Regions from separate parts of the Homo sapiens genome. Here all the other regions are linked to region 1. The links come from fine-mapping of genetic effects on gene expression. A gene starts in region 1. Each other region holds a variant in brackets. All regions are shown on one strand. Distances are between the middles of the regions.

Region 1 (8,182 bases):
CACATCTTACATGGATGGCAGCAGGCAAAGAGAGAGAGCTTATGCAGAGGAACTCCTTTTTTTTTTTTTTGGAGACAGAGTCTTCAATTTTGCCCAGGCTGGAGTGCAGCGGTGCAATCTCGGCTCACTGCAACCTCCTTCTCCCAGGTTCAAGCAATTCACTCTGCCTCAGCCTCCCTAGTAGTTTGGATTACAGGTGCCCACCACCATGCCCAGCCAGAACTCTTTTAAAAACCATCAGATCTCATGAGACTTATTCACTATCACAAGAACAGCACAGGAAAGACTTGCCCCCATGATTCAATTACCTCCCACTGGGTTTTAAGATGAGATGTGGGTGGGGACACAGCCAAACCATATCACAGCTACTGTGAAAGCAGAGTTGGAGGGTCACTTCAGCCTGGGAGGTTGAGGCTGCAGTGAGACGTGTTCATGCCAATGCATTCCAGCCTGGGTGACAAAGTGAGACCCTGTAAAAAAAAAAAAAAGAAAGGAAAGAAAGGCTTATGTTTTACCCAAACAATACCTTACTATGACTGGCTCTGTGTCCCCACCCAAATCTCATCTTGTAGGTCCCATAATTCCTACATGTTGTGAGAGGGACCCGGCAGATGATAATTGAATCATGGGGGCAGGTCTTTCCCGTGCTGTTCTTGTGATAGTGAATAAGTCTCATGAGATCTGATGGTTTTAAAAATGAGAGTTTCCCTGCACAAGTTCTCTCTTCTCTTGTCTGCTGCCATGTGAGACATGACTTTCACCTTCCACCATGATTATGAGGCTTCCCCAGCCATGTGGAACTGTAAGTCCAATAAACCTCTTTCTTTTGTAAATTTCCTAGTCTTGGGTATGTCTTTATCAGCAGCATGAAAAAGAACTAACACAGTAAATTGGTACCAGTAGAGTGAGGCACTGCTAAAAAGATATCCAAAAATATGGAAGCAACTTTGGAACTGGGTTAACAGCCAGATGTTGGAACAGTCTGGAGGGCTCAGAAGAAGACAGGAAAATGCAGGAAAGTTTAGAACTCCCTAGAGGCTTGTTAAATGGCTTTGACAAAAATGCTGATAATTATATGGACAATGAAATCCAATCAGGTGGTCTCAGATGGAGATGAGGAACTTGTTGGGAACTGGAGCAAAGGTGACTTTTGTTATGTTTTAGCAAAGAGGCTGGCGGCACTTTGCCCCTGCCATAGAGATTTGTGAAACTTTGAACTGGAGAGAGATGATTTAGGGTATCTGACAGAAGAAATTTCTAAGCAGCAAAGCATTCAAGAGGTGACTTGGGTGCTGTTAAAGGCATTCAGTTTTTAAGGGAAACAGAACATAAAAGTTTGGAAAATTTGCAGCCTGACAACATGACAGAAAAGAAAATCTCATTTTCTGAGGAGAAATTCAAGCTAGCTGTAGAAATTTGCATAAGTAAGGAAGATCCGAATGTTAATCACCAAGACAATGGGGAAAACGGGCATGTCAGAGATCTTCATGGCAGCTCCTCCCATCACAGGCCTGGAGGTTTAGGAAGAAAAAATGGTTTTGTGGGCCGGGCCCAGGATCCCTCTGCTGTGTGCAGTCTAGGAACTTGGTGCCTTGTGTCCCAGCTGCCCCAGCTGTAACTAAAAGGGGCTGAGGCATAGCTTGGGCTATTGCTTCAGAGGGTGGAAGCCCCAAGCCTTGGCAGCTTCCACTTGGTGTTGAGCCTGTAGGTACACAGTAGTCAAGAATTGAAGTTTGAGAGTCTCCACCTAATTGATACAAAAAGCAGATAAACAGGCCAGGCATGATGGCTCATGCCTGTAATCCCAGCACTTTGGGAAGCCAAGGCAGGTGGATCACCTGAAGTCAGGAGTTTGAGACCAGCCCGGCCAACATGGCAAAACCCTGTCTCTACTAAAAACACAAAAATTAGCGTGATGTGGTGGTGCGCACCTGTAGTCCCAGCTATTTGGGAGGCCTAAGCAGGAGAATCTTTTGAACCTGGGAGGTGGAGGTTGCAGTGAGCTAAGATTGCACCACTGCATTCCAGCCTGGATGACAGAGCGAGACTCCGTCTCAAGAAAAAAAAAACAAAAAGCAAAAAACAAAAAACCAGATAAACAGAGAAAAATTGAACTGCCATTAGAGAAGACGGGGAGATGTGGGAACCCAGAGCCTTGTCTTTAACTTCCTACTGATTCTCTATCCTCACAGATTTCTGACACACTACCAGAGGATTCAGGGCTCCATGAAACATAATTTGAAAATAACTAGCCTACCTTGGCAGTTCTCAAAGTTTGTAGTATCAAGACCCCTTGGCATGTTTAAAAATTGAAGACTCAAAGAAGTTTTTTTCATGTGGATTGTAACTATTGGTATTTACCATATTAGAAATGAAAACTGATAAATTATATATAAAAGATTAATTCCTTAAAATTGACAATAAGCCCATTACATGTTAACATAAATATCATATTTTAATGAAAAATTACTATATTTTAAAAACAAAAGATAAGATTGGCATTGTTTTACATTTTTGTAAATCTCTAATATCTGACTTAAAAAACAGCTTAATTCTATTTGCTTTGATAGCACATTATAGTCTCCACAAAACTTCATTGTACACTTCTGAGAGAACAAGAGTGAAAAAAGCAAGTAACACATGAAAACTTTTTGACCTCATGGATCCCAGAAAGAACCTCGGAGATTGTCTACAGTCCCCAGCTCACATTTGGAGAACCTCTGTCCTAAATCCAAAGGTCCATTCTAGCTGGCACTGAAAATTGACTTAATTTCTGAAATCCTATTAACCGTTTTGAAGAGTCTGATTCTACCAAAATACTAAAAAAGAATGTGAGGTGAATACTAAATAGAAAAATGTTGAATTCAAAATGAAGGGACTAAGATAAGTGGTTTTTATTACAAAGCAAACTGTATTAGATAACTTAAATCTATGTATGTTCAAAAAGATGTACTTGTCATATCTAGTGCAATTACTTGTTTACATATCTCTTCTACCCAACCTGTGAGCTTTGCAAGAAGGAAATGAGTCTTTTTTGTTTGGTTATTTTTCTGAGACAGTGTCTCGTTCTGTTCCCCAGGCTGCAGGGCAGTGGTGTGATCTCGGCTCACTGCAACAGGGAGCCTCCTGAGCAGCTGGGATTACAGGTGCCCACCGCCTCACCCGGCTAACTTTTTGTATTTTTAGTGGAGCCGGGGTTTCACCATGTTGGCCAGGCTGGTCTGGAACTCCTGACCTCAGGTGATCCGCCCGCTATGGCCTCCCAAAGTGCTGGGATTACAGGCGTAAACCACCGTGCCTGGCCAAAGGAATTGAGTCTTAATCCCTTTTGCATCTTCAGTCTTTAGGATAACGTCTGACACACAACAGGCATTAAATATTTGTTGGATGAATGAACTGAACTGCATAGAATGCAGAAAGCCTACATATACTGGCCAGGCACAGTGGCTCACACCTGTAATCCCAGCACTTTGGGAGGCCGAGACGGGCGGATCACCTGAGGTCAGGAGTTTGAGACCAGCCTGGTCAACATAGCAAAACCCGGTCTCTATTAAAAATATAAAAATTAGCCGGGCATGGTTGTGGGCGCCTGTAATCCCAGCTACTCGGGAGGCTGAGGCAGGAGAATCGTTTGAATCTGGAAGGAGGAGGTTGAGGTGAGCCGAGATCGCACCACTGCACTCCAGCCTCGGCGACAAGAGGGAGACTCCGTCTCAAAACAACCAACCAACAAGCCTACATATCCTGCCACACGTGCTACAATCCACAGCAAACTGTTTCATCCACATTCAACCACTTTCTTAAAGTCACCATCATGATCCTATCAAGAAAACCGTAATTTATATGGTATTTTAATGTGCCTTTATAAATTACTAATCACTTTCTTCATGATGTATGTTAAAATGGCTTATGTCACCTGATGTAATCCTTAATGAGGGAAATAAAAGGCCATGATTATGCCTGGCTTTTTTTCTTATATGTTAGATTTGAGTGTTAAAATGACCTCGAAGCGGCGAAAGAAAGGAACGGAACTGCCCTCCACATTAAAAATGAGCAGGCTCCATAGGTTAATTTTACTCTTCCTCACGCACGGCACTTACATGTTGCAAACTCTCTGCTCCACAGCACGCACAGACATCCCAAATCCCGGATTGGGCCTGAGGAACATCTCTGCAAAGAGCGCCAGGAGGGCGTGGGGGTCCCGCCTCTCTCGCCAGGGACCAGGGAGTGGACACTCACTGGTCCAGTCATGAGGAACTCAGCATCCTCCTGACGGGAGGCGCCTCTTTCCCAGAAGCGGTGGGTCAGGAGGAATCTGACTAAACCCTGGGTTGCCGGCCCGGAGGGCGCGGTTGACCCCGGGGCCTCGAGGTTGTGGGCGAGGAGTAATCCGCCCGCCGAGACCGACCCGCAGATCCAGGAGACCGAAACCCGAGGGCGGCGCTCCAGGGTGCTGAGGAGACCGGAAAGGCGGCCAGGACCTTCCGGTCGCCTCGGCCCACCACCCACCCAGTGTCCGCGCAGCCCTAAAGCCTGGCAGACGCGGAGCGCACGCGGCCTTTGCCTCGGCCAGGACAGGGCAGCGGGGAGAGGGCTGCTAGACAACAATTCTTGACCCCTCCTCGACCCACGACCGCCAGGTAGGCGCGCAAAGCTCCTACACCTGCGGCGCGCCCCCGTCCCCTGGTCCAGCGGACACGCCACGCACGCAGCCCCGCCCAGCGCCGCTCGCGGTAGGGGCGGAGCCGCTGAGCTGGCCAAAGCGGATTTGCCCAGCTAGGCCAGGGGCGGGGCAGGCCCTCCCAGCCAGGACCAGCCCCAGTCTCCCCGCCCCTGAGCCGTGAAGGAAATAGGGACCTGGCCCTGGGCCTTGTGTAGCGGGAGGGGGAGCTAGGAAGCAGCTGAGGGCAGAATCCAGGAGGGCCTGGCTGCGGGGGAATGAAGCCTCCGCCTTCGCAGGCAAAAGCCTTTAAATACGGGCTCAGGCCCGGGACTCAGAGTGTAACGCGTGGCAGCCTGAGGGAGGGGCGTGCGCCGAGAGGGAGCTCAGATCGAGCGGGGCGCGGGTGGAGAAGCTGCGGCGGCGCGGCCCGTAGGAAGGTGCTGTCCGAACGATCGGGATAGGAGCGGTCCCTGCGCTTGCTGCTGGGAAGTGGGTAAGCGCCGCTCCCAGGCTGGCCCCGCCGCCCGGGCGGGATGCTCCCAGGTCTGGGCGGGATGTGGAGGGAGCGGGGCTGGGGTGTGCGCGCTGCTCCCGGTCGCTCGCTGCGCTGGGTCCCGGGCTTCCCGTCTCACGACCTTCGTCTCTTTGGGGCTTAGGGCGGGAACCGCATTTTGGAACTGCTGTCCTGGGGATGTGGTCGTCTGGGCTTCTTATTCAAGACTCGTGAGTCTTCCAGCCCCTTCTCTTTCTGCCTTTACCCACTTTCCTGACTTGGATGAGATTTCCCTGCCGCCTCCAAAGCCGAACGCCCACCACAGGAAGCGGTTCTCTCGTTGGGGACCTCATTTTGGCCGCAGAGTCGTAGTCTTTTGTTTGTGTTTAAGAGTCTGCTCACCTGAGGGGCTCCTGCTTTTCTCATGCCGCCCCTCTTAAGAAACCAAAGAGAAACGAAGCCAGAAAGCCCTCTTGAGAGCAAAATACTAAGACTGCCGTGATATCTGTCCGGGATGTCCTGGAATCCATTGTTGGCCCCCTACACCACAGAATTGCTCTGTTTGATGTCGGGGAAGGCCTTTCCTGGGTGCCTCGGGAGACCATGTTTGTGTGAGATCTTGAAAAATTATACGTCCTATAAATATATAGGAAGATAACTTAGTAGGGTTAGGAATTCTAGTATAGAGAAAAGAGGGGTTCGCTGGTAGGGATCTATTCATGGGCATACAGAGCAGTAGCTGTCTATCGACAGACCTCAAAGACACAGTGAGCCTTTGAGTTTCTTCAAATCCCTTAAGAAATGGAGAACAGTAGTCTTTCTTCAGGGGGGTTCTGGAAATGAAAGAGCTGACTGTCTGCTCTGAGATGTGCTTATTAGTGGCCAGGATCCAGTTTAAGGTAAGGGGTAGACAACCCTGATTGAAAAGATCTCATTTCTTCTCCCGTTGCTGTACTCCTTTTTCTAACAAAATCTATAACTGGATAAGCATAATCCATCTTCCTTCTTGTTTACTTCCACAGCTTTACATGATAACCCTTAGACATAAAATTAATACCGGCTTTCTTACTGATTAAATATTTTTCTCTGGTCAGGCATCTTTTACTGTTTAATTTCTGGAAATGATTAAAATGTGTGAAGCTGATGTATCCAACTATAATGCCCATCGTTAGCTCCTGGGTACCTATGCAAAATATGCTGTAGAGAGCTGGGGCTAGAAGGATTATATTCCGTTTAGATTGTAGTAGGGCATTTGTTATTTGTTAGTGACCCCTTCTGGGTTGGAATGTTTATTTGAATTTATGAAATTTTACATGAAGAGTAGTTTTGGAACGGTTTGGTTTGTTGTGACTCTCCCAAAATACAGAGGTAAAAACTCATTTCAAAATAACCCATTTAATAAGGAAACACTCCTATGTCTCTGACAGCAGAATAGAGGGCCAGAGGGTACATAAAAGTAGAAATAGAAAATGGGGGCCGGGCGTGGTGGCTCACGCCTGTAATCCCAGCACTTTGGGAGGCCGAGACGGGCGGATCACGAGGTCAGGAGATCGAGACCATCCTGGCTAACATGGTGAAATCCCGTCTCTACTAAAAATACAAAAAAAAATTAGCCGGGCGTAGTGGCGGGCGCCTGTAGTCCCAGCTACTCGGGAGGCTGAGGCAGGAGAATGGCATGAACCTGGGAGGCAGAGCTTTCAGTGAGCCGAGATTGCGCCACTGCACTCCAACCTGGGCAACTGAGCGAGACTACGTCTCAAAAAAAAAAAAGAAAAAGAAAAGAAAATGGGGCTGGGCGCAGTGGCTCACGCCTGTAATCCCAGCACTTTGGGAGGCCAAGGTGGATGGATCACCTGAGGTCAGGAGTTCGAGACCAGCCTGACCAATATGGTGAAACCCCGTCTCTACTAAATATATAAAAACTAGCTGGGCGTGGTGGTGGGCACCTGTAATCCCAGCTACTCGGGAGGCTGAGGCAGGAGAATTGCTTGAACCCAGGAGACGGAGGTTGCAGTGAGCCGACATGGTGCCACTGCACTCCAGCCTCGGTGACAGTGAGACTCCGTCTCAAAAAGAAAAAAGAAATAGAAAATGGAGTTGGCAGACATCTGTGTCATGCAAAGTGTGTCACTAACACTATGTCAAACTCCATGTTAAAGCTTATTGAAGATTTTATTGAAACTTCCAAGTGAGCATTTATTTGGACTTGCACAGATTGTACATCAGCCTTTTCATTGATTCTCCCATTGTCATCGGTAAGCCGTATTTCATGGGAAATAGCAAGGCGAGAATACCCAAAATAAAGCTTGTGTAAAACACATCCAGTTCTGTGATACAAGTTCACCTGCCATCAGTAGTCTATCCCAGCTGATGTATGTAAAGCAAGTTGAAATGTGGTCTCACAATCAAGGCAGATAAGAAGTAACTCTGGGGAAACATGCTGAAGTTCTTTAGGTAACTCAAAAAAAGAACTTGGCCAGATGCGATGGCTCACACCTGTAATCCCAACACTTTGGGAGGCTGAGGCAGGTGGATCAACTGAGGTCAGGAGCTTGAGACCAGCCTGGCCCACATGGTGAAAACCTGTCTCTAGAAAAAATACAAACATTAGCTGGACATGGTGGCGGACACCTGTAGTCCCAGGTACTTGGTACTTGGGAGGCTAGGTGGGAGACTCACTTGAACCTGGGAGGCGGAGGCTGCGGTGAGCCCAGATTGTGCTGTTGCACTCCAGCCTGGGCAACAGAGTGAGACCTTGTGTCAGAAAAAAAAAAAAAAAGTTGATAGTATTCTGGTCAATTACTGCAAAAATACTATGATCGGCAATCTGAACTAAAGCTATTTACACAGAAGTCTTCATCTCAAAAAGAGACGCCCTTGTGGAGAGTTACTCATTCATTCAATTAATAATCATTGAGAGGCTGCTATTCTAGGAGTCAAGGATACAGCAGGGAGCAGCAGCAAATAACTGTTAGCCTGGCTGTGCCTTATTAAACTATGAACTCCTTAAGCCCAGGAGCTGCAAC
Region 2 (8,182 bases), 56 kb before region 1:
CTTCTCTATGCAGCAAATGTATTTTTGCTAGTTGTGTTAAAACTTTTGTAAAATATTTGTTTTTCTTTTTAAAATATTTAATTATTTATATAAATAATATATGAATATGTGTTTTCAAAAAATATCAATACATTAAAAGTAAGGCTGAACTCCTTTCCCCATACTTAGCTTTTATTTCCTACTTTCCTAGATGAATTGGTGTGTATCTTCCCAGATCTTTTTAAGAAATATGTTTTTAGATACTATGGAATATGTATATTTTCCTCAATTTAATAATATTTTGCATTTTTCATGTTGCTATGAAAGCTTTTTTAATCGTGTGATTAACTTTTGAGTTTTATTTTAGTCAATAAGGAAATTTCAGTGGACTACTTTGTTTCAAATCTTAATCCTTTTTTTAAATCAATATGCAGGCACTGGAAGACATAAAAGGCACATAGCCTTCTATAATTAGCAATACAATTGGTCTTACCAATTTTGAACTGTGTATTTAGGATGTATAGTTACGTTTTATTTATTTATTTAGAATAGAGATGGGGTCTCTCTATTTTGCCCAGGCTGGTCTCAAACTCCTGGCCTCAAGCACTCTTCCCTTCTTGACCTCCCAAAGTGCTGGGATTACAGGCGTGAGCCACCACCCTCAGCCGACAGTTTCTTGTGTATTGTTCCCATTATTATTATTGTATAACAAATTTCCCCAAAACTTAGTTCCATAGAACAACCATTCATTAAGCTGACAGACTGTGTCTGGAATTCACACAGCTTGTCTGCTGATCATTGTTTGTGTTCTTAGCTAGAAGACATAGAAGCTGAGGGCAGGAAGTATCTGGAAACTTGGTTACTCACTGTCTGATAGTTGATGCTGGTGAGTAGCTGGAACCTTAGCTAGTATTGTCAGTTAGAATGTCTACATACGGCCTTTTCATGTGGCTGCTTGGCTTCCTCATAGAATGGTGGCCTGGTTCCAAGGGAGAACATCCCTCCTGAGAGGAGATGGGAGAGGGAGAGAACTTAGTGTAAGAAGTCATAACACCTTTCCTATATTCTTGGGTGTAGCAGTCACAGGCCTGTCCAGGTTCAAGAGGAGGGCAAACAGATTTCTCTCTTTCCTTCCTCCCTCTTTCCTTTCTTCTTCCTTCTTCCTCCTTTCTTCTTTGACAGGGTCTTGCTCTGTCACCCAGGATGGAGGGCAATGGCTTGACCATAGCCTGGGCTCAAGCGTTCCTCCTGCCTTGACCTCCCAAAGTGTTAGGATTACAGGCATGAGCCACAGAGTCTGGCCAGATTTCACCTCTCAATGGGGAGTGGCAAGATTCTAGAAGAGCATGTTTGGCTTTAATTCTGTGGCTGTTTTTGGAAAGTATAGACACACATCTTTCTAGAATTTTTTTTTTTTTTTTTTTTTTTTTTGAGATGGAGCCTCACTCTGTCTCCCAGGCTGGAGTGCAGTGGCGCGATCTTGGCTCCTGCAAGCTCCACGTCCCTGTTTCATGCCATTCTTCTGCCTCAGCCTCCCGAGTAGCTGGGACTACAGGCACCCGCCACCATGCCTGGCTAATTTTTTTGTATTTTTAGTAGAGACGGGGTTTCACTGTGTTAGCCAGGATGGTCTCGATCTCCTGACCTCGTGATCCACCCACCTCGGCCTCCCAAAGTGCTGGGATTACAGGCGTGAGCCACCGTGCCTGGCTCCTTCTAGAAATTTAATATGCATATACGTATGTATATAGTTTATATTTTTGTTTTACATAGAAGGGATCATAGTATATATACATGCTATGGACTAAATGTTTGTGTACCTTCCCCCCAAAATTCATATGTTGAATTCCCTAATCCCCAATGTGCTAGCATTTGGAGGTGGGACCTTTGGAAGGTAATGAGTTCATGAGGGTAGAGGCCTTGTGATAGGATTAGTGCCCATATTAGAAGAGACAGAAAAGAGATGATCCTCTTCTCTACCATGTGAGGATGGAGGAAGAAGACCTCTATCTACAAGCCAGTAAGAGGACCCACACTGGGAACCAAATCAGCTAGAACTTTGATCTTGGATTTCCCAGCCTTCATAGTTGTCAGAAATAAATGTTTGTATGTAAGCTACCTGGCCCATAGTATTTGTTATTGCAGCCCAAACTAAGACAAAAAGTGTTACTAAAAAGTGGGATGCTACTATAACAAATACCTAAAAACGGGTAAGTGACTTTGCAACTGTGTAATGGATATAGGCTGGAAGAGTTTTTAAGTGCATGCTAGAACAAGCTGATATTTGCTGTGAGGGACTGTTGGTAGAAGTAAGGGCATTAAAGGTGATTTTGGAGAGAGCTCAGCAAGAAGAGAGGAGAATGGTAGAGCAAGCTTCCATCTTACAGAATACATAAATAATCATGTACAGAATTTTAGTAGAAAATAAAGGCCATTCTGATATGGTCTTAGAAATGAAGAACGTTACTGGACAATGGAGAAAAGGCAATCTTTGTTACAAAGTAGCAAAGAACTTGGCTGAATTATGTTTGTGTTCTAGTGTTTTCTGGGTGGGAGGTAGAACTTGTGAGTGATGAAGTTGGATACTTAGCTGAGGAGATTTCTAAGCAAAATGTTGAAGGAATGGCTTGGTTCCTCCTGATTGTTTATAGTAAAAATTGAAAAGAGGGAAGCCAATTGAAGATGGAATTATTAAGCAAAAAGGAACCACAACTTAAAGATTTGGAAAATTCTCAGCCTGTCCACATAACAAAAAGTAAGAAAGTTCACAAGAGAACACTAAAGGTATGGTAGACTAACCACTTGATAAGATTTGTGTGGGTGAGAACTGCAGAATCAAATCACCAGCCCCCAGCAGGAAACTGCCAGGTTGAACTAAAAGGGAGGGAGACTGGATGGAATGAAGGAGAAATAGAGGTCGGAGTTCTTTTATTTTACAGGACAAGACCGTAGAGCTATTGGGCTGCAAGTGTACATTATTCTTCAAGGCAAGGGAAGAATGATCTGGACATTATTCTTCATGACAAGGGAAGAGCGACCTTAACAGCAATTCAGAGATGATCAGGGCTGCCTCTTTGGTTTCAAAGGGGGTGGACCATCCCTTCTGTATCAGCACACCGGTTGGCCTCTGCCCAAAGCTTTTTGGTCATCAAAGCCTTGGGGTTGGTGCTACCTGGAGCCTTGCAGGACAATACATTTCTGCAACTTTTTTTTTTCCCACTTCGTACATCTTCACTTTAATCTTTTGATATTAGCAAATCAAAGTCAGGCTCCTTTTTAGCAGTGTCATAGTATTGGAATTCTCTGTCTTTTCTTTTAATAATAGAAGTAGGCTGGGCGCAGTGGCTCATGCCTGTAATCCCAGCACTTTGGGAGGCCAAGGCGGGCAGATCACCTGAGGTCGGGAGTTCGAGACCAGACTTACCAACATGGAGAAACCCCGTCTCTACTAAAAATACAAAAATTAGCTGGGCATGGTGGCGCACGCCTGTAATCCCAGCTACTCAGGAGGCTGAGGCAGGAGAATCACTTGAACCTGGGAGGTGGAGGTTGCAGTGAGCCAAGATTGCACCACTGCACTCCAGCCTGGGCAACAAGAGCAAAACTCTGTCTCTAATAATAATAATAATAATAATAGAAGTAATATGTGAATATCTAGACCATGAAAGCCTGAAATAATGTAGAAATATGGAGCAAAATGTAAACATGTCCCTTTCTATTGCTCCCCACTCATCCATCCCACTTCATGGCCACTATTACTTGTTTTGTCAGAGGTCACATTAAGTTTGTGGACCTTTTAGTCACATTTCTAGGCACTTATATACTTTTATATATAATTGAAATAAACTGTTTCATAGGGTATGGCTATGCATTTACTGTTATGTCTTTAATGACAGTAAATTGCATCATTTTTGGTTCAATAAAGTAAACTCAAATTCAGAATGTGCTTTGTAGAGCTGGGGAAAGTATATGAGAAAATCTGGAGTGGTTGCTCAACCTGCATATCATTTAGGCAAAGTAGCCCAACCTATTAGTGTTAGACATTCAAAATATATTTAGATTTGCCTTTAACCTGATTATTTGTAGTCTTTACAAAAATTTTTTTTTCTTTTTTCTTTTTTTTTTTTTTTTTT[G/TTG]ACAAGGTCCTGCTTGATTACCCAGGCTGGAGTGCAGTTGCATGATCTTGGTTTACTGCAACCTCTGCCTCCTAGGTTCAAACCGTCCTCCCACCTCAGCCTCCCAAGTAGCTGGGACTATAGATGTGTGCCACCACACCCAGCTAATTTTTGTATTTCTTGTAGAGACAGGGTCTCCCTATATTGCCCAGGCTGGTCTTGAACTCCTGGGCTCAAGCAATTTGCCCACCTAGGCCTCCTAAATTATTGGGAATACAGGCATGAGCCACTGCGCCCAGCCTGTTTGTCTTTTTTTTTTTTTTTTTTTTTTTTGAGACAGTGTCTTACTCTGTCGCTCAGGCTGGAGTGCAGTGGCAAGATCTCGGCTCACTGCAAACTCCACCTCCCAGGTTCAAGCAATTCTCCTGCCTCAGCCTCCTGAGTAGCTGGGATTATAGGTGCACACCAGCATGCCCGGCTAATTTTTATATTTTTAGTAGAGACAAGGTTTCACCATGTTGGCCAGGCTGGTCTCAAACTTCTGACCTCAACTGATCCACCTGCCTTGGCCTCCCAAAGTTCGAGGATTACAGGTGTGAGCCACTGTGCCTAGTCCAAATTATTTTCATTATGGAGTACTGCATAGAGATGTTACTTAATCAAAATGTGATCAGATGTAGTATTAGGTTCTAGCTGGTTTCCCAGTTGAAACACTGGGCTTCTGCAGAGATGTGATCATCCAGGAAGACTTGAATTGAACGTACTGTATTTGTATTTCATCATTAAAAAAAATTCTCCTATTGTAGTTTGGCTATGTGTATCAAAACTTACAGTGTGCATACTTGTGTTCTAGCAATTCTTCCCTGAGGAGATTAATCAGGTGTGTAAGAATGTATTTATAGGAACATATACACAGCATTGTTTTTCATATATAAATTTGGAAATGATGAAATTAAATGAAATACTGGTGCAGCATTGAAAGATAAGTTTGAGCTATTTGGAGGCATCAGTTTGTGACTGATTGGTAAGTGTGGCAGAAAGAGCAAAATAACTCAGGGTCTTATCTTGTAAAATCTGTGCCATCATATATACTGTGTTAGAAAAATGTGTACACGTATGTGGAACACATTAACTAAAATGGTAACAGAATGGTTATCATTGGATGGTGGGATTTTGTCCATTTTGTTCACTGCTTTATCCATAACAACTAGAACAATAGGGAGCCACATTAGAAAGAAGGTCATGTTTGCGTTATTTTTATAGGGGCTTTATGTTTTATTTTCCATGTTGGGCTCCTTCTAGATCTTTGGATCTGTAATACAGCCTCCCTCGTTTTGTGACTATGTTTCCAAACCCCAATTTGGAATGAATGACCTGAAGCTGATTATCGGAATACTTAAAACCAGTTAGAATAATAGCCCAGGCAAGTTGGCTCACACCTGTAATCTTAACACTTTGGGAGTCTGAGGTGGGAAGATTGCTTGAGCCCAGGAGTTTGAGACCAGCCTGGGCAACACAGTGAGACCTTGTCTCTAAAAATAATAAAATAAAATAAAAAATTAGCCCAGTGTGGTGGCATGTGCCTATAGTCCCAACAACTCAGGAAGCTGAGGTGGGAGGATTGCTTAAGCCTGGGAGGTCGAGGCTGCAGTGAGCCATGATTGTGCCACTGCACACCAGCCAGGGCAACAGAGTGACACCCTGTCTCTTAAAAAAACAAAACGGCTGGATGCGGTGGCTCACGCGTGTAATCCCAGTACTTTGGGAGGCTGAGGCGGGTGGAACATCTGAGATCAGGAGTTCAAAACCAGCCTGGCCAACATGGCAAAACCCTGAACTACTAAAAATATAAAAATTAGCCGGGTGTGATGGTGGGTGCCTGTAATCCCAGCTACTTGGGAGGCTGAGGCACGAGAATTTTGGACCCGGGAGGCGGAGGTTGTGGTGAGCTGAGATCTTGCCACCACAATCCGGCCTGGGTGAAAAGAGCGAGACTCTGTTGCAAAAATAAATAAATAAAAATAAAAAATTAAAGGTGAAACACAAATGCCATTTAAATGAATACTGAAGTAGAATTTAGCTACTGGTGGACCAGTACAACTGGAATATATAGCTGGTCTTTTTCTATAAGACCCTTTCTTTTTTTTTTTGAAATGGAGTTTCACTCTTGTTGCCCAGGCTGGAGTGCATTGGCACAGTCTTGGCTCACTGCAACCTCTGCCTCCTGGGTTCAAGCGATTCTCCTGCCTCAGCCTCCCAAGTAGCTGGGATTACAGCCGTGCACCACCACACCCAGCTAATTTCGTATTTTTAGTAGAGACAGGGTTTCACCATGTTGGTCAGGCTGGTCTGGAACTTCTGACCTCAAGTGATCCACCTGCCTCGGCTTCCCAAAGTGCTGGGATTACAGGCATAAGCCACCGTGCCCGGCCAAGACCCTTTCATATTCAAAAAGAATCCACTTCTTCCCCTTTTTTCTCTTATGAATTATTTGCTGCAAAGGAAAGATCCAGTTAAATACAAGTTATGGGGGAAGCCAGACAACACAGATACTGTAGGCAAAGTGATAATAACCTTTAGGTTTCAGAGGGTACTCTTCTTCCAGTGTGTTGGTTATAGTTTATCTAAGAAAAGACATTTGCTAGACCAGGCGCGGTGGCTCATTCCTGTAATCCCAGCACTTTGGGAGGCCGAGGCGGGCAGATCACCTGAGGTCGGGAGTTTGAGACCAGCCTGACCAACATGGAGAAACCCTGTCTCTTCTAAAAACACAAAACTAGCTGGCTGTGGTGACACATGCCTGCAATCCCAGCCACTTGGGAGGCTGAGGCAGGAGAATCACTTGAATCCAGGAGGCGGAGGTTGCAGTGAGCAGAGATCGTGCCATTGCACTCCAGCCTGGGCAACAAGAGTGAAACTCAGTCTCAAAAAAAAAAAAAAAGAAAAGACATTTGCTGGGCATGGTGGCTCACGCCTGTAATCCCAGCACTTTGGAAGGCCCAGGTGTGTGGATTCCTTGAGCTCAGGAGTTCAAGACCAACCTGGGCCACATGGTGAAACTCCGTCTCTACTAAAAATACAAAAACAGCCAGGTGTGGTGGTTGTGCGCCTGAGGTTCGAGCTACTCCTGTGGTCCCAGCTGCTCAGGAGGCTGAGGGAGGCTGAGGATCGTCACTTGAGCTTGGTGCTGGGGTAGGGGGTGGGTGGGGGTGCAGAGGTTGCAGTGAGCCTAGATCACACCACTGCACTCCAGCCTGGGTGACAGATCAAGACCCTGTCTCAAAAAAAAAAAAAAAGAAAAAGAAAAGGAAAAAAACGAAAAAAGAAAAGACACCTACTGAGTTAAAGTTAACCAGTGGAAATCTGTGTGTGTGTCTTTTAATTCTGATGATCCTAAGAAGTTATGATAATTAAGTAGCCTGCAAAAACAAAAGCAAAAGTATGATTTCAGGTTCTGGTTAAAGTGAAGAGACAAACTGTGTAAAACTCCATTGTTAACAGGCAGATCTGCTCATTAATAGAGAAGGAACTTAAACATTTGAATTTTAGAGGGAGAATATAAAATGTTTAGGCATAAAATATTTAAAAAACATTTTGTTGGACAGTATAGAGAAAAATGCACAATATAAATAATACTAAAATCCAAAATATTAAAGACTAAGGTATTTTAAAGGTTTTTTTCCTTCTTAAGCAGAAAGGCCAAATTGAAGATTAAGGATAAGTTCTAGGATGATGTACAATAAATTATGCTCATTAGGAAACACTAGAGTTCTGTTAAGACACTTTCTTAATTAAGCACGTGATATTAGCTATAATATTGCAATGATGTGAAAAAATTCTGTGGGCCATGAGCTGAGTTCTTTATGTACATTAATATTTTATTTATATATTTAATTATATCACTTAATCCTCATGGTGAATTTAAGGTTGATAATAGGTTGTGTTTATCTTTTTCATAGTTTGAAACTTTGCCTTAGAAACAGAGACAGGGGCTGGGTGCGGTAGCTCACACCTGTAATCCCAGCACTTTGAGAGGCTGAGGTGGGCGGATCATGAGGTCAGGAGTTCAAGACCAGCCTGACCAACATGGT
Region 3 (8,182 bases), 33 kb after region 1:
GTCATTAAAGATATATTTTGAATCCATGAAATTGCTATGCTAAACAGCCTTTACATGTATGGTCTGGTTAAAGTTCCTTTGTTCCTTTTGTTTTAATAAAATGTGTCACTGATTTTTTAGCTCAAAATCATCACTGTTAATTTCCAGTCACCCCAAATATGGTTAAAAGATTTTTTTTTTAATCATGAAGAGAAAATTAGTAGCATTTCTTTCTCTCCCCATTATTTATTGGTTTTCCTCACTAATCTTTTTTTTTTTAGTCCAAAAGCCAAAAATATTTATCTTGGTTTTACATTTTAATTTCCATTCTTAATTGTAATTTTTTTCTTTAAATAAGGAAACCAATATAATCTCATGTATAAAAACTTAAATATTTTACAAGTTACATATAGCATCATTCTAAAATAAGAATTTTTTTTGTTTTCTGTCTGCTTTTTTCTTATGTCTCTTGTTGAGTTTTATATTTTCAGTGGTTATTTTTGCTTGTGTTAGATCATTATTAAAATATATCCAATGTCCCTTTGATACTTGTGCTCTGCTGAGAATGTACAGTTTGCATTAAACATCCCAGGTCTCATCCTTCAGGAATTTTGCAGTTCAATGAGAAGAGGGAGACAAATATAAAGATGAGGACAGAAGCATCTCTACAGATGAAAATTACATAAATAAAACATTCTCCATCAACAACTATATGGGTGTAATTTTTGTCAATTCACAAGTAACTGAGTCATGACAGCCTGACATTAGATGGGAAAAAAATGACACCTCACTTTTTAGAGAAAATGGTATATCATTCTCTCAAATGATGCAACAAAGGGAGAGAATTTAGCAAATAAACATTGGCAAACTGTAGCCCCTGGGTCAAATCTGGCCAGCCATGAGTGAGCTAAGAATGGTTGTTACATTTTTACATGGTCATATGTTAAATGGTTTGACCAGGCATGGTGGCTCATGCATGTAATCCCACCACTTTGGGAGGCCAAAGAGGGAGGATCACTTAAGGCCAGTTTGAGACCAGCCTGGGCAACTTACTGCCTAGGCAATAAGTAAGACCCCATTTCTACAAACAAACAAAGCACAAACATTTTAAATGGTTATACAAATCCCTACATAATATCCTCAACTTTACCTCTTGGCTGGCAAAGCCTAAAATATTTCCTACCTGGTCCTTTAAGAAAGTCTGCATACCTCTGAAAGAGACAAATGCTAGAGTTCGAACATAAGGTGAGCCTTTACTCATAAGACTTTGAAGTGAGGATGAGTTTATTAATTAGAATTTGCTTTACATTTCTGCTTGAAAATATTATTGTATTCTGCTTAGTAATTTTATATTCTAGTAAAGGCATTGTAAGTCCAAAGATGTATGAAGATGTATGCTAAAGCAGATAGAATTAGGCACTTGTCCTGTCCAAATGAGGAATTTTTAAATTTTTAAATGGTTTTTTTTTCTATTTTTAGACATCTAATGCTATAGATTCAAACTTTTTCTACTCTTGTCTAGATATGCCAAATGCTGGCAAAAAATTGCTTTTGTTGTTGTTGTTGTTCTTTTTTTTTGAGACAGAGTCTTGTTTTATTGGCCAGGCTGGAGTGCAGTGGCACCATCTCGGCTCACTGCAACCTCTGCCTCCTGGGGTTCAAGCCACTGTGCCCAGCCTAAGAATTGCTATTTGGATGTTGCCGAATTTGTAAAAACACAGCAATAAGCAAAATCCTTTTGAACAAAGAAGTCCTGAGTTCATCTCATTGGTGGACTGAAGCAATTCTGTAGCAAATAAATCCTTTGAAAGAGCTCCAAAAAGAAGAAAAAAAGAAATAGGTACTTGTGCCGGGTGCAGTGGCTCATGCTTGTACTTTGGGAGGCTGAGGTGGGGGATCACCTGAGGTTAGGAGTTCGAGACCAGCCTGGCCAACATGGTGAAACCCCGTCTCTACTAAAAATACAAAAAAACTAGCCAGGCGTAGTGGCACGCGCCTGTAATCCCAGCTACTCAGGAGGCTGAGGCAGGAGAATCACTTGAACCTGGGAGCAGAGGTTGCAGTGAGCCAAGATGGCGCCATTGCACTCCAGCCTGGGCAACAAGAGCGAAACTGTCTCAGAAAAAAAAGAAAAGAAAAGAAAAGAAAGAAATAGGTACTTGTTTTAAATTGCAAGATGTTTCAATGCCTGGAACTGATAAGTAAACAATTATTGTAAGATATAATTACTGGCCGGGTGTGGTGGCTCATGCCTGTAATCCCGGCACTTTGAGAGGTCAAGGTGGGTGGATGCTTGAGCTCAGGAGTTCAAGACCAGCCTGGGCAACATGGCGAAACCTCGTCTCTAAAAAAATACAAAAAATTAGCCATGAGTGGTGGTGCATGCCAGTAGTCCAAGCTAACTGGGAGGCTGAGGTGGGAAGATCACTTGAGCCCAGGATGTCAAGGCTGCAGTGAGCCGAGATTGTACCACTGCACTCTAGTCTGGATGACAGAGTGAGACCCTGTCTCAAAAAAAAAAGAAAAAAGTTACTGGTAAATGGAGGAAAATGGGCAAAAGAGGGCTCATAGAGCCAGATAAACTTGCTGTTTGAAATGGGAGGAAAAACTCAGTAATTAGGCATGTAACTTAACAGCAATTTGAGACTTTCATGTGAAAAGTTGAAAGAAGGTGGTTAGTCTTTTTTTCTCTCCTCAACCAGTTAAAGACAATTGTTGTTTTTTTTAATCATACAAACTTTCAGTTTTTAAAAATATATATATTTAAATTTTTATACCTGATCCCTACCACCAGGAAAAGTTTCAATTTTTTATTAGCTAATATATTTTTGGTAGGGCAGAGGAATATTGGTAAGATTACTAACTGTACTTAAAATTGAAAATAATAGGCCGGGCGCTGTGGCTCACGCCTGTAATCCCAGCACTTTGGGAGGCCGAGGTGGGTGGATCACCTGAGGTCAAGAGTTCGAGACCAGCCTGACCAACATGGAGAAACCTCGTCTCTACTATAAATACAAAATTAGCCGGGTGTAGTGGTGCATGCCTGTAATCCCAGCTACTCAGGGGGCTGAGACAGGAGAATCGCTTGAACCCGGGAGGTGGAGATTACGGTGAGCCGAGATCATGCCATTGCACTCCGACCTGGGCAACAAGAGTGAAACTCCTTCTCAAAAAAAAAAAAAAAAAAAATTGAAAATAATATATGGACATGGTAAAAAGACATTCACATAGATACAAAAGGATAAACAAAATCTCTCTCCTACAATTTTCTCTCCTACAATTCCACTTAAGACTTCTTGGCTAAGCTACCTGAAAGCCTTATTTTTCCCATCTGTAAAACAGATAATCCATCTCCAACTCGAAGAATTGTTATAAAGATTACATGAGATGAATGTTTACACAAAGATCTTCTTGGCACAGTGACTGGCAGGCAATGAGCACTCCTGTTAGCACCATAACAAGCTGGTCCCACTGCACCAGAACCACGTGTAGGCTCTGGAATCACTAGAAGGACAGTAATTAACACTGAACATTTTGGACAGGCACTATGCAAAGTCCTTTAGGTGCATTTTCTCATCTGTTCCTCACATAAGTCTTTATTTCATTTCATTTTTTACTTCCCCATGTTATTCTAGGACTCATTTAAGTCTTTTGAGGTAAGTTCTGATCCTGTGATTCAGACTACAGGCAGAAG[G/T]CTCGGAAGATTTAGCAGCTTGCTCAGGGTCACACCTTAATAAGTGGCAGAACCAGAATTCAGGACAGACTATGTGACTTTTCTCTCCAGCTTTTAATATTAGTCATTCTGCTTCTCTGGATACATAAAGGTGCCCAGGTAAAAGTCATTCTTCTCAAATGCAAAGAATTAACCAGGCATCAGGCCAATACTTGTCATGCAGACTTAAGCCAATACTTTGTTATGCAGTACTTGTCACTGGTGCCTTATCTTCCTATTTCTCAAGAAAAAGCTAAAAATCTGGATTTGGTGGTGTGGTGTTTTTTGTTTTTTGAGACGGAATCTCTGTTGCCCAGGCTGGAGTGCAGTGGTGCAATCTTGGCTCACTGCAACCTTCACCTCGCAGGTTCAAGCTATTCTCCTGCTTCAGCCTCCTGAGTAGCTGAGATTACAGGCACCCACCACCATGCCCGACTAATTTTTGTAAAAATCTGGATTTTTATATAAAATCTCTCAATTTATAAGTGTTGGCACGATGTTTAAAAACAAATTTTTACACTACACACACCAAAATATCTGTGAAGGGTAGATCTAGATCAAAGGTTGCTAGTTTTTAAAAAAAGAAAACCCTAAATTCTGACATAATTTTAGATTTACAGAAAAGTTGAAAGAATGGTACAAAAATGCTGTATACCCTTCTTATTCACTAAATATTAATATTATATTTGCTTTGTTTTATCCTTCCTGTATACATCACACATAAAATTTATATTTATATAAATTTTTTTCCTGAATGATTTGAGATTAAGTTGCAAGGCCAGGTGCGGTGGCTCATCCCTGTAATCCCAGCACTTTAGGAGGCTAAGGTCAGGAGTTTGAGACCAACCTGGACAACATGGTAAAACCTCATCTTTACTAAAAATACAAAAAATTAGCCGGGCATGGTTGTGCGCACCTGTAGTCCCAGCTACTTGGGAAACTGAGGCAGGAGAATCATTCAAACCCGGGAGGCAGAGGTTGCAGTGAGCTGAGATTGTGCCACTGCATTCTAGCCTGGGTGACAGAGCAAGACTCTGTCTCAATAAAAAAAAAAAAAAAAAAAAAAAAAGAGAGTAAGTTGGAGACATGATTCCCTTTTCCCCTAAATACTTCAGGGTTATCTCAGTTTCTGTGGGTCAGGAATTCAGGAACAGTTTAGCCAAATGGTTCTGGGTCAAAGTCTGGTTGTAATCAAAATGTCAACCAGGGCTTTGGTCATCAAAAGGCTTGACTGGGGCTGGAAGATTGTCTTCCAAGATGGCTTGCTCATATGACTATCAAGTTAGTGCTGGCGGTTGACAGGAGGCCTCAGTTCTTTGCCAACTGGATCTCCTCATAGCACTGCTTGAATATCCTCATGACACAGCATAGCAAGTTGGCATCTTCAAGAGTGAAAAAACCAATAGAGGACAAGACAGAACCTCCAATGTCTTTTATTATCTAGCCTCAGAAATCATACCCCATCATTTCTATAATATCCTATTGTTTAACCAGATAGCTCTATTCACTGTCTGAAGAGACATGGATATCAGGAGGTGATAATCACTGGGAGCCATCTTGGAGGTTGGCTATTGGAGTTTTATTTCCCAAAAAATAAGGAAATAGGGCAGGTGCAGTGGCTAACACCTGTAATCCCAGCACTTTGGGAAGTCAAGGCAGGAAGATTGCTTAAGCAATCTGGCAAAACCCCATCTCTACCAAAAATACAAAAATTAGCCAGGTGTGGTGGTGCATGCCTGTGGTCCCAACTATTTGGGAGGCTGAGATGGGAGGATTGTTTGAGGTGGAGGTTGCAGTGAGCTGAGATCTCACCACTGTACTCCAGCCTGGGCGACAGAGTGAAACTGTGTCTAAAAAACAAAACAGGCCAGGAGCCGTGGCTCATGCCTGTAATCCCAGCACTTTGGGAGGCCAAGGTGGGTGGATCACCTGAGGTCAGGAGAGTTCGAGATCAGCCTGGCCAACATGGTGAAACCCCATCTCTACTACAAATACAAAAATTAGCTGGGCGTGGTGGCTGGCACCTGTAATCACAGCTACTCAGGAGGCTGAGGCAAGAGAATTGCTTGAACCCGGGGGCTGAGGCTGCAGTGAGCAGAGATTGTGCCACTGCACTCCAGCCTGGGTGACAGAGCGAGACTCTATCTCAAAAACAAAACAAAACAAAACAAACAAACAAAAAGATTGTTACTCCTTTAAACTTTCATCCACTAGTTTTAGCATCTACTAATGATTCCTGTCTGAATCAATTATTATAACAATGGTAGCTTCCAGTTTTTGATCAAGTTTGAATCTTGCTTTTACCACTTAGTAGAAATGGGACCTTGGCCCAGATAAGTCAACTTTCTTAAGTCAATTTCTTCATATATAAAGCAAGGATAATACAGTACACTTCAGAAGGCTGTTTGTGAGGATTACATTAGATAAGAGTGTAAAACACTTGGCACAGGGCGTGGTACACAGGAAACACTCCAGAAATGTTAGGGGGACTTTGTTGGTTGCCCATCCAGAGGATCCATTCCCCTTTCTTCCTTCCTAACAGAGCCCCAGTGTTCAGATGTTCATCCCCACCTGCTTACCTCACCTTCAGATCCAAGGATGGTCCGTCTTACTTTTGTTTAACAAATTTCCCTTGCCAATGATTTTTCTTGCCAATGATTGCTTCAGAAACAACCTTGTGACCAATGCTGGCGATTGAGAATTGAGGGGTAGTTTGTTAGTAAGGCTCCTGGGACACATTCCTGAAACAGCTACAAGGAAAGTTGCCCTCTCTTCTCCTTCTGGATGTTGTGGCTGGATATGATCCCTGGATAACAGGTATTTGGTTGTGACAGCCACAGCCACCATCCTACCAGACTGGGGTGAAGCCAACACCAAAGATGGCAGAGATAATAGAAGGAAAAACCTAGATCCTCGATTACTTTGTTGAGTCCCTGAATCAATGAACCTTGAAGACTACTTCCTGTTTGGTGACATAAATGTCCTCCTTAATGACACGATTGAATAGGACATTTCTTATTTGAAGCTGAAAATACCCTACTTTTAGAGGTATTGTATTATCATCATTATTAAGAAGAACGGCCAGTCACAGTGGCTCACGCCTATAATCCCAGCACTTTGGGAGGCCGAGGCAGGGGGATCACCTGAGGTCGGGAGTTCGAGAACAGCCTGGCCTACATGGTGAAATCCCATCTCTACTAAAAATACAAAAATTATCTGGGCATAGTAGTGGGCACCTGTAATCCCAGCTACTTGGGAGGCTGAGGCAGGAAAATCACTTGAACTCGGGAGGCAGAGGTTGCAGTGAGCCGATATTGCGCCATTGCACTCCAGCCTGGGCAGCAAGTGCGAAACTCAATCTTGAAACAAAAGCAAAAACAAAAATTAGCTGGGCATGGTGGCGGGCGCCTGTAATCCCAGCTACTTGGGAGGCTGAGGAGGGAGAATCACTTGAACCCAGGACGCAGAGGCTGCAGTGAGCCAAGATCGCACCCTTGCACTCCAGCCTGGGCAACAGAGTGAGACTGTCTCAGAAAAAAAAAAAAAAGAAGAAGAAGAAAAGAGAAGAACAAGCACCAATGGCTTTAGACAGAATAATGAAATAGCATCTCAAGGAAAGAATCAGAAGGTTGCACTGGGTGCGGTGGTCACACCTGTAATCTCAGTAGTATGGAAGTCTGAGGCTGGAGGATCACTAGATGTCAGGAGTTCCAGACCAGCCTGGCCAATATGGTGAAACCCTGTCTCTATTAAAAAAATACAAAAATTGGCCAGGTGCGGTAGCTCACGCCTGTAATCCCAGCACTTTGGGAGGCCAAGATGGGAGGATCACCTGAGGTCAGGAGTTTGAGACCAGCTGGGCCAACAGGGTAAAAACCTGTCTCTACTAAATATACAAAAATTAGCTGGGCATGGTGGCAGGTGCTTGTAATCCCAGATACTCAGGAGGCTGAGGCAGGAGAATGGCTTGAACCAGGGAGGCGGAGGTTGAAGTGAGATTGCGCCATTGCACTCCAGCCTGGGCAACAAAGCAAGACTCCATTTCAAAAAAAAAAAAAAAATTAGCTGGGGGTGGTGGCAGGCACTTGCAATCCCAGTTACTCAGGGAGGCTGAGGCAGGAGAATCGTTTGAACTGGGAGGCAGAGGTTGCAGTGAGCTGAGATCACGCCACTGCACTCCAGCCTGGGCAACAGAGCAAGACTCTATCTCAAAAAATAAATAAATAAGTAAGTAATCAGAAAGTTGCTAAAGGAAAATTGCTTGAACAGCAGCTGAAATGGAAGTGAACACATGGCCTCCAACCTCCTGGGGACACCCAGAAAGGGTCTGAGGTTCTACAGGAGGTATGGGATAGGGGACATGGAGGAGGGTTCAGTAAGACAACTCAGCTGGTGAAGGTAAGGTCTAATTGTAATGTGTAAAGTAAGCTCATTTGTACTCACCTTTAAGTAACTCTACTTAGAATATGTCAAATTAGGGCCGGGCGCAGT

The links. PIP is the estimated chance that this variant, and not a neighbour inherited with it, causes the effect.
Region 2: its variant is fine-mapped to the expression of UGDH in B cells (Schmiedel 2018, PIP 0.95).
Region 3: its variant is fine-mapped to the expression of UGDH in whole blood (INTERVAL, PIP above 0.99).

The regions. Positions count from the first base shown.
Region 1 is chr4:39,524,257-39,532,438 of GRCh38, reverse strand. UGDH (UDP-glucose 6-dehydrogenase) reads left to right here and starts at 5,000. Exons shown (of 12, transcript NM_003359.4): 1 at 5,000-5,156. It overlaps UGDH-AS1 (UGDH antisense RNA 1), which reads right to left and starts at 4,600. Exons shown (of 5, transcript NR_047679.1): 1 at 4,101-4,600; 2 at 309-470. RefSeq lists an enhancer at 4,116-4,175 and silencers at 4,556-4,855, 5,106-5,285.
Region 2 is chr4:39,580,724-39,588,905 of GRCh38, reverse strand. All of the region lies in intron 2 of SMIM14 (small integral membrane protein 14), which reads left to right. It overlaps UGDH-AS1 (UGDH antisense RNA 1), which reads right to left. Exons shown (of 5, transcript NR_047679.1): 3 at 847-983. Among named protein-coding and RNA genes, the nearest start is that of SMIM14, 54 kb to the left of the region's middle. The variant G/TTG (reference allele first, on the strand shown) is at 4,113.
Region 3 is chr4:39,491,263-39,499,444 of GRCh38, reverse strand. UGDH (UDP-glucose 6-dehydrogenase) reads left to right here. Exons shown (of 12, transcript NM_003359.4): 12 at 1-690. Among named protein-coding and RNA genes, the nearest start is that of UGDH, 32 kb to the left of the region's middle. The variant G/T (reference allele first, on the strand shown) is at 3,674.